2 linked regions of the Homo sapiens genome follow. The protein of the gene in region 1 interacts with the protein of each later gene in a biochemical or structural test. Each region holds a gene or a part of one and is shown in the gene's direction. Other genes may lie near its edges.

What was found.
Region 2: the proteins of TLR2 (region 1) and TOLLIP form a complex in vitro, tested with the Homo sapiens proteins (one study listed by BioGRID).

What each region holds. Positions count from the first base shown.
Region 1 is NC_000004.12:153,687,269-153,691,082, forward strand, and holds part of TLR2 (toll-like receptor 2 precursor), read left to right. Parts: exon of another isoform or gene 1-633; 5' UTR 634-779; intron 780-785; exon of another isoform or gene 786-1,077; intron 1,078-3,814. UniProt on the Homo sapiens protein: Cooperates with LY96 to mediate the innate immune response to bacterial lipoproteins and other microbial cell wall components. Cooperates with TLR1 or TLR6 to mediate the innate immune response to bacterial lipoproteins or lipopeptides.
Region 2 is NC_000011.10:1,285,430-1,289,243, reverse strand, and holds part of TOLLIP (toll-interacting protein), read left to right. Parts: exon of another isoform or gene 1-348; intron 349-467; coding exon 468-620; intron 621-3,151; coding exon 3,152-3,242; intron 3,243-3,814. UniProt on the Homo sapiens protein: Component of the signaling pathway of IL-1 and Toll-like receptors. Inhibits cell activation by microbial products. Recruits IRAK1 to the IL-1 receptor complex. Inhibits IRAK1 phosphorylation and kinase activity.

The sequences.
Region 1 (3,814 bases):
AAAAGGAATAGTAAAATAAATCCAGAGAAATCAGAACAGGGGAAATAATAATATAAGAATAGAAATTAATGTGCTAGAAAATAGGGGATCTATCAAGTCAGAAGTTGATTTTTTGAAAATGCTAATAAAAATGATGAACCTCTGGCAAGACAATAAAAGCTGGTACAAATAACTCATCTAAGGAATAAAATTGAGGACCTCTCTTTTGTTAAATGACATAAGCAGGAGGCCATTATCCTGAGACTGTCTCTACACTTTGAGTTCTTACATAATAAACTGCAACCTAATTTAGTATACTACATAAACAAACTGAAACCTAACTTAGGAGCTTTTTTTTTGTAATTAATAGCTAAATTTCCACCAAATCATAAATAGCCAAGCTTTAGCCAATCACAGGCAGCCAACTGATCAGACTATGCCCAAACAAGGTAAATGCCTATTACACCATACCCAAATAAGGCAGACTCCTAGCTGAAGCCAATCAGGTGATTACTATGCTCTTGTGTTTGGCCTATAAAAGCTCACTGCTCACACTGTTGGATGCTCTCTGAAACTTTTGTGAATCTGAGTGCTGCCTGATTCATGAATCATTCTTTGCTAAAATAAACTCTGTCAAATTTAATTTGTCTGAAGTTTCTCTTTTAACAGTGTTTGGTGTTGCAAGCAGGATCCAAAGGAGACCTATAGTGACTCCCAGGAGCTCTTAGTGACCAAGTGAAGGTACCTGTGGGGCTCATTGTGCCCATTGCTCTTTCACTGCTTTCAACTGGTAGTTGTGGGTAAGTTCCTGCTCAGACTTGAGCACTATACATTTGCATTTTCAGCTCTCTGACTTTATTTGAGCAATTCTTTGATGGATTGGCTCCAGAATTGGATTGGATTCAGTGAAGAAACTGAAACTGGACTGGTGCTCTAGGAGGCCTCAAGTAGATAAGGTTACTAGAAGACAGGGAATCCTGGGCTTATCTGGATTTAAGGAGTCTACAACTCCATCTGCAACTCCAGCCGATTTCATTTATAAGAATTATGGACCAAGAACCTGTGCTTTTCTAGAGAAATGTGTGAGCCTTACTAAAGGTAACTTAGAATTACAATGGACTGCTGAGACCAGCTCGGTCGTGGAGACCCTAACCCAGCAGCGCTAGAGGAATCAAAGACACACACACAGAAATGTAGAGTGTGGAGTGGGAAATCAGGGGACTCACAGCCTTCAGAGCTGAGAGCCCCTAACAGAGATTTACCCACATATTTACTGACAGCAAGCCAGTGATAAGCATTATCGCTATAGATTATAGATTAACTAAAAGTATTCCTTACAGGAAACAAAGGGATGGGCCGAAACAAAGGGATAGGCTCTGGCTAGATGTCTGCAGCAGGAACACGTCCTTAAGGCACAGATTGCTCATGCTATTGTTGTGGCTTAGGAACACGTTAAGCGGTTTTCTGCCCTGGGTGGGCCAGGTGTTCCTTGCCCTCATTCCAGTAAACCCACAACCTTCAGCGTGGGCGTCATGGCTGTCACAAACATGTCACAGTGCTGCAGAGATTTTGTTTATGGCCAAATCTGGGGCTAGTTTATGGCCAGGTTTGGGAGCCTGTTCCCACATGTCCCCCTTTTTTGTTTTGCAAAGCAATAAAAGCAAAGGCAGCTTTGTCACAGTGAGCTACTTCTTGCAGGAGTCGGGATTCGCATATGCATACTATACAAAGACAAACAACACAGATTAAAAGCACAACCATCATTGAAATCACAGAGCTTCCAAGTGTCTTTATCTATTTTAATGGGTTAATCACTGCTAATCTGTCTGCAGCTCCTTCAAGCACTCCAGTTCCTGGCATTAAGGTCTGGTGTGCCTGGAATGCTTTAAATATTTGTTCTTTTAATATTGCAATATGGAAAGACAAGTTTGTAGAGTGTCTTCTAGGTGCTTTTTTATTCTTTCCTGAATTTGGTCTTATTTAAGAGCCATTAATAGTTTCCACAAATCCTTATGTTTAGCTCCTACAGCGGGCCATATCATTTGAGGGTGAGGTGCCACTATACCATCATGTTTCCAGATAATAGGAACTCTTGCCATATTTCTTGCTATTTCTACCATCTGACCATTTTGTTTAGACCAGCTAAACATAGTGTGGCCATGGCACGCAGACTGAGAGGTGCAATTTAAGCTAAACATCCCCTTAGGGGACCAATCAATAATGATTCCATAGGAATCACTGCGCAGCACCTCTGCCTATTCTGCAATGCAATCTTCCCAAACAAGTATGTTCATTATTTCTGGCCAGGTCCAATTCTGTTTACAAATAGGTTTTTGAGGGCAATATGCCTCAATTATAGAAACAGATTTATTATGGTAAATACTGAGATCAGAAAGCATGTGTAACTGTGTCATAGAATGATTACATCCAGGCATTATTGCCAGCCAAGATTGATAAATATGCCCAATAAGTATAATTGTTCTCTGTGTTAGCCCTTGTTGAAGGAATACTAATGGCAATGGTGATCACTGCTATCATAGCTATCATTAAATTACTCATTGTGACTGGTTGTCCCACTTTCCTCAGGTTTTCTTCCACCCTCTATGGCAGTTTCTTGATCTGTCCCCAGGTAGATGGCTGTGTTTGATGGTTGTTGCTCGTGATAGTTTGGGTCCTCCTCAGCATCAGTCTCGACATGGCTGCAACCAGAGGGTCCTCGGGATCCTCCCAGAATCTCTTCCTTGGCATCTGGCTCATGATAAGGTTTCAGGTGTCTTGATGGTATCCAAATCAGCTATTGATTCTGGCCTGGAGAAACACAAGCATAACCTCTACCCCAAGTTATTATTTTACCTATTTCCCAACTTTTTGTTGTCAGATCTCTGCACCAAGCCAGTTGTTCTGCTTCTGTTTTTGCAGCTGGTTTCTGTAGATGCTCTTCAGCTGCTGATAGCATCTGGCCTTTAGGCAGGCTCAAAAAATTTAAAGTCATTAATGCTAGATTCAGTTGTATATGGGGTGTCCTGTAATCCCTGTTTCCCCTTTTTGCTTTTGCAACTGCTGTTTCAGGGAGAGATTCATTCTTTCTACAATGGTTTGTCCTTGAGAATTATATGGGATGCCAGTAATGTGTTTAATATTCCATATAGAGAAAAATGTAGCTAGAGCTTGGCTAGTATAGCCTGGGGCATTATCTGTTTTAACAGAAGTTGGAATTCCTATCACCACAAAACACTGCAAAAGGTGATGCTTAACACATGCAGTCTCCTGATTGGCATGTAGCCCAGACAAAGTGAGAAAAGGTGTCCACACATACATGTACATAAGCTAGTCTCCCAAACGAGGGAACGTGTGACATCCATTTGCTAAAGATAATTAGGTTCCAATCCTCGAGGATTAACTCCTCCTGTTAAAGATGAGGAATGCACCATTTGGCAAGTTGGGCATCACTGGATAATAGCTTTAGCTTCTTTCCAGGTACTGTTATATCTGCATTTGAGACCAGAGGCATTAACATGGGTTAAATTGTGAAAGTGTCTAGCATTAGATATTGCAGTAGCAACTAGGCGATCAGCCATTTGATTCCCTTCAGTTAAAGGTCCTGGAAGAGGTGTATGAGCCCTAATGTGAGTGATGTAAAAAGGGTGCATTCTACTCCTAAATGCTGTTTGCAATTGGGTAAATAAAGTCATCAGTTGTTCATCTGTATGAAGTCATAACTGAGCATTTTCAATTAATTGTATGGAATGAACCACATAGGAAGAATCAGAAATCACATTAATAGGCATATCAAAAGCAGTCAATACCTCAATTACAGCTAAAGCTCCACTTTTTG
Region 2 (3,814 bases), on another chromosome or scaffold:
TGGCCCTCAGAAGAGTAGAGAGCGCATGGGAAGTGCAGAGTCAGCTGTGGGAGGCAGACCCCGTGTCCTTTCCAGTCTGCACCCCGGCTGCTCTGGGGCTTGACAGGTGGCAGCCGGTGGAGCAAGGATGGGGCCCCGAGGGCTGGGGAGGAGCAGCCAGTGTCCCTGAAGTGGAACTGAAGGAGGACAGCAGCCCAGGGCCCTCGCTTTCCCCAGCCCCAGACCTGGCCCTGGCCCTGGCCCTGGCCCATCCTGGTGGAGAGAGGGAAGAAGTCCCCTACGGAGGCTGATATACGATCGTGAAGCCTGCGCTGCCCGAGGGGTCTCATCGATGGGGTGTTGGTGCAGGTGGGAGCCCTGTTCCACAGATAAGACGGGGACTCGAGGCGGGCCCACGATGGTGCGGCTGCAGGGGCAGGGTGGCCCCTTCCCTGATGCCTGGGGCCTCTCCCTCTTGTCTCCCGCAGAGAGCCTTCTCCATGGACGACCGCATTGCCTGGACCCACATCACCATCCCGGAGTCCCTGAGGCAGGGCAAGGTGGAGGACAAGTGGTACAGCCTGAGCGGGAGGCAGGGGGACGACAAGGAGGGCATGATCAACCTCGTCATGTCCTACGCGGTGAGCTGCACGCCTGGGCGGGGTGGGGCGCATTGGGGTATGTTGGAGCACGTCGGGGCTATGCCGCCCCACAGACACCCTTGTCTCTTTCCTGGAGGCACTGAGCCCATAAAACAGCAGGGCTCACGTTCTGAGGACAGAGGGCAGGGGCCCTGGGTGGTTTGGTGGCAGAGAGGGGCTGCCCTGCCCACTGCTCCTGCCCATGTTCTCTGTCTGGGGAAACAGCATAGGGGTTGTTTGTGTTCCTAAGATGAGCCAACCCTTTGTGGTGGTCTCCACTGCAGGCCCCTGTGTCCTCGGAGGACCCCCACAGCCCTTCCAAGCTCTGCCCTTAGGGTCCAGCTGAGCAGCCCTCCAGGGTCTGAGATACAGCCCTGGGCCCTGCAGGACACCAGGCTCCTCCCCACAGGGCAGGCATTGGCCGTGGTGTGGCAGGGCATCTCTGGAGATGTCGGGGAAGCCTGGGGGCTGCTGTGCTCAGGGTCAGGAAGTCGAGGCCTGGCTGTGGGGCCAGCACGTCAGCGCCCTGGCTCCCAGCCATCTCCATTCTCAGGGCACCTGCAGCTCCTGGGGGCATCAGGAGGGCCAGTTAGAGGCTCCAAGACGCAGAGCTCCTGCCGTCTCGTCTGTATCATCAACCAGAGGATTTTCAGGCTGTTACTGAAAAATGGTGCTGTGGGAAATGCCAGGCAGATGTGACAGCAGAGAGGGTGCAGCAGAGAGGGTGCAGCAGGGAGGGTGCAGCAGGGAGGCTGCAGCAGAGAGGGTGCGGCAGGGAGGCTGCGGCGGGGAGGGTGCGGCGGGGAGGCTGCGGCGGGGAGGCTGCGGCAGGGAGGGTGCGGCGGGGAGGCTGCGGCGGGGAGGGTGCGGCGGGGAGGCTGCGGCGGGGAGGCTGCGGCAGAGAGGGTGCAGCGGGGAGGCTGCGGCGGGGAGGCTGCGGCGGGGAGGGTGCGGCGGGGAGGCTGCGGCGGGGAGGGTGCGGCGGGGAGGCTGCGGCGGGGAGGCTGCGGCGGGGAGGGTGCGGCGGGGAGGCTGCGGCGGGGAGGGTGCGGCGGGGAGGCTGCGGCGGGGAGGCTGCGGCGGTGAGGCTGCGGCGGGGAGGCTGCGGCGGGGAGGCTGCGGCGGGGAGGGTGCGGCGGGGAGGGTGCGGCGGGGAGGCTGCGGCGGGGAGGGTGCGGCGGGGAGGCTGCGGCGGGGAGGGTGCGGCGGGGAGGCTGCGGCGGGGAGGCAGCAGCAGGGAGCTGCTTTTCTGGGCCATCTTGGCTCCTCCCACCCCCTTTTTGTTAAAGCTGGGATATTTTAAATCATGTCCCGGCCGTGAGTGACGATGTGTAAATGTCTCATGACACGTCTTTAACAGACGCTTTCATACAAACACAGAACCATCATGACGCTCCAGTGATTTTACCTGCAGTTGACAGTTTCGAACTCAGAGACGACAGTGGTGCAGTGACTTATCCGCAGTTGACAGTTTCGAACTCAGAAGACAGCGGTGCAGTGACTTATCCACAGCTGACAGTTTTGAACTCAGAGACGGCAGCGGTGCAGTGACTTATCCGCAGCTGACAGTTTTGAACTCAGAGGCGACAGTGGTGCAGTGACTTATCCGCAGCTGACAGTTTCGAACTCAGAGACAACCGCGGTGCAGTGACTTATCCACAGTTGACAGTTTTGAACTCAGAGACAACAGCAGTGCAGTGACTTATCCGCAGTGGACAGTTTTGAACTCAGGAGACAGCAGTGCAGTGACTTATCTGCAGTGGACAGTTTTGAACTAAACTCAGAGACGACAGCAGTGCAGTGACTTATCCACGGTTGACAGTTTTGAACTCAGAGACAACAGCAGTGCAATGACTTATCCGCAGTGGACAGTTTTGAACTCAGGAGACAGCAGTGCAGTGACTTATCCACAGTGGACAGTTTTGAACTAAACTTAGAGATGACAGCGGTGCAGTGACTTATCCACAGTTGACAGTTTTGAACTCAGGAGACAGCAGTGCAGTGACTTATCCGCAGTGGACAGTTTTGAACTAAACTCAGAGACGACAGCGGTGCAGTGACTTATCCGCAGTTGACAGTTTTGAACTCAGAGGTGACAGTGGTGCAGTGACTTATCCACAGTGGACAGTTTTGAACTCAGAGTTGACAGCAGTGCAGTGACTTATGTGAAGTTGACACTTTCAAACTCAGACACCACAGCAGTGCAGTGTGGTTCCCCCCAGGCCGACTCGACACCTACACTGGGATGTCCCTCCTGTCACCATCCTCTCTCAGTCACATCCCAGTTAGAAGGGGGTCTGTAAGCCCGAGCCATGTCACCTCCTGGATTTGAGGAGGTGGTGCAGGGGTGGGAGCAGGGCCCAGCGTCCCCTGTGCACTCAGGGCTCGTGTAGCGAGGGTGATTCTGGGCTGGCATGGGGAGGGCGATTCTGGGCTGGCGTGGGGAGGGCAATTGTGGGGAGGGCGATTCCCGAGGTTCTGATGGGTGGATGTTCCTCCTTGACCCCGGGACCATCTCCGCTGTGTTTCAGCTGCTTCCAGCTGCCATGGTGATGCCACCCCAGCCCGTGGTCCTGATGCCAACAGTGTACCAGCAGGGCGTTGGCTATGTGCCCATCACAGGTGCGTGTGCTCCCTCCCTGGGTGCCTCTCCCCTGGTAGAAACCCCAGGGCCTAGGGCAGGTGCGGGAGGAGGGAACGGGGCTTAGAGCGCCGGGGTGGGGACGTCATCCATTCTAGAATCCTGTAGACGTGCTGACCGCACACAGATCCTTTCAGGCCAGGAAGCCAAGGCTTACGTTTGAATTTTGTTTGCATATCTAGAAAATAGAATTGTTTTTTTTTTTTTTTTCTAATTGTTGGCAGAAATGAGGTGAGTTGAAATTTTCAGAGATGTGGAAATGTGGCTTTGAAACCCCGTTGTGCCCAGCTCTGTGCAGGAGAACCTCACGCCCCTGTCAGGTGACACGTGCTCTGCACTGTGCCGTCGTGTCCGAACCTCACGCCCATTGGGTGACGCGTGCCCTGCGCTGCGCCGTTGTGTCTGAACCTCACGCTCCTGTTGGGTGATGCGTGCTCTCTACTGCGCTGTTGCGTCTGTTGTCGTGTGTCACTGTTAGGAGTGAGCAGCCTGTGGCTGCAGCAACACCAAGCTGGGATGTCGCTTTTCATGCTGTTGCATTTTCGGTCCAGCT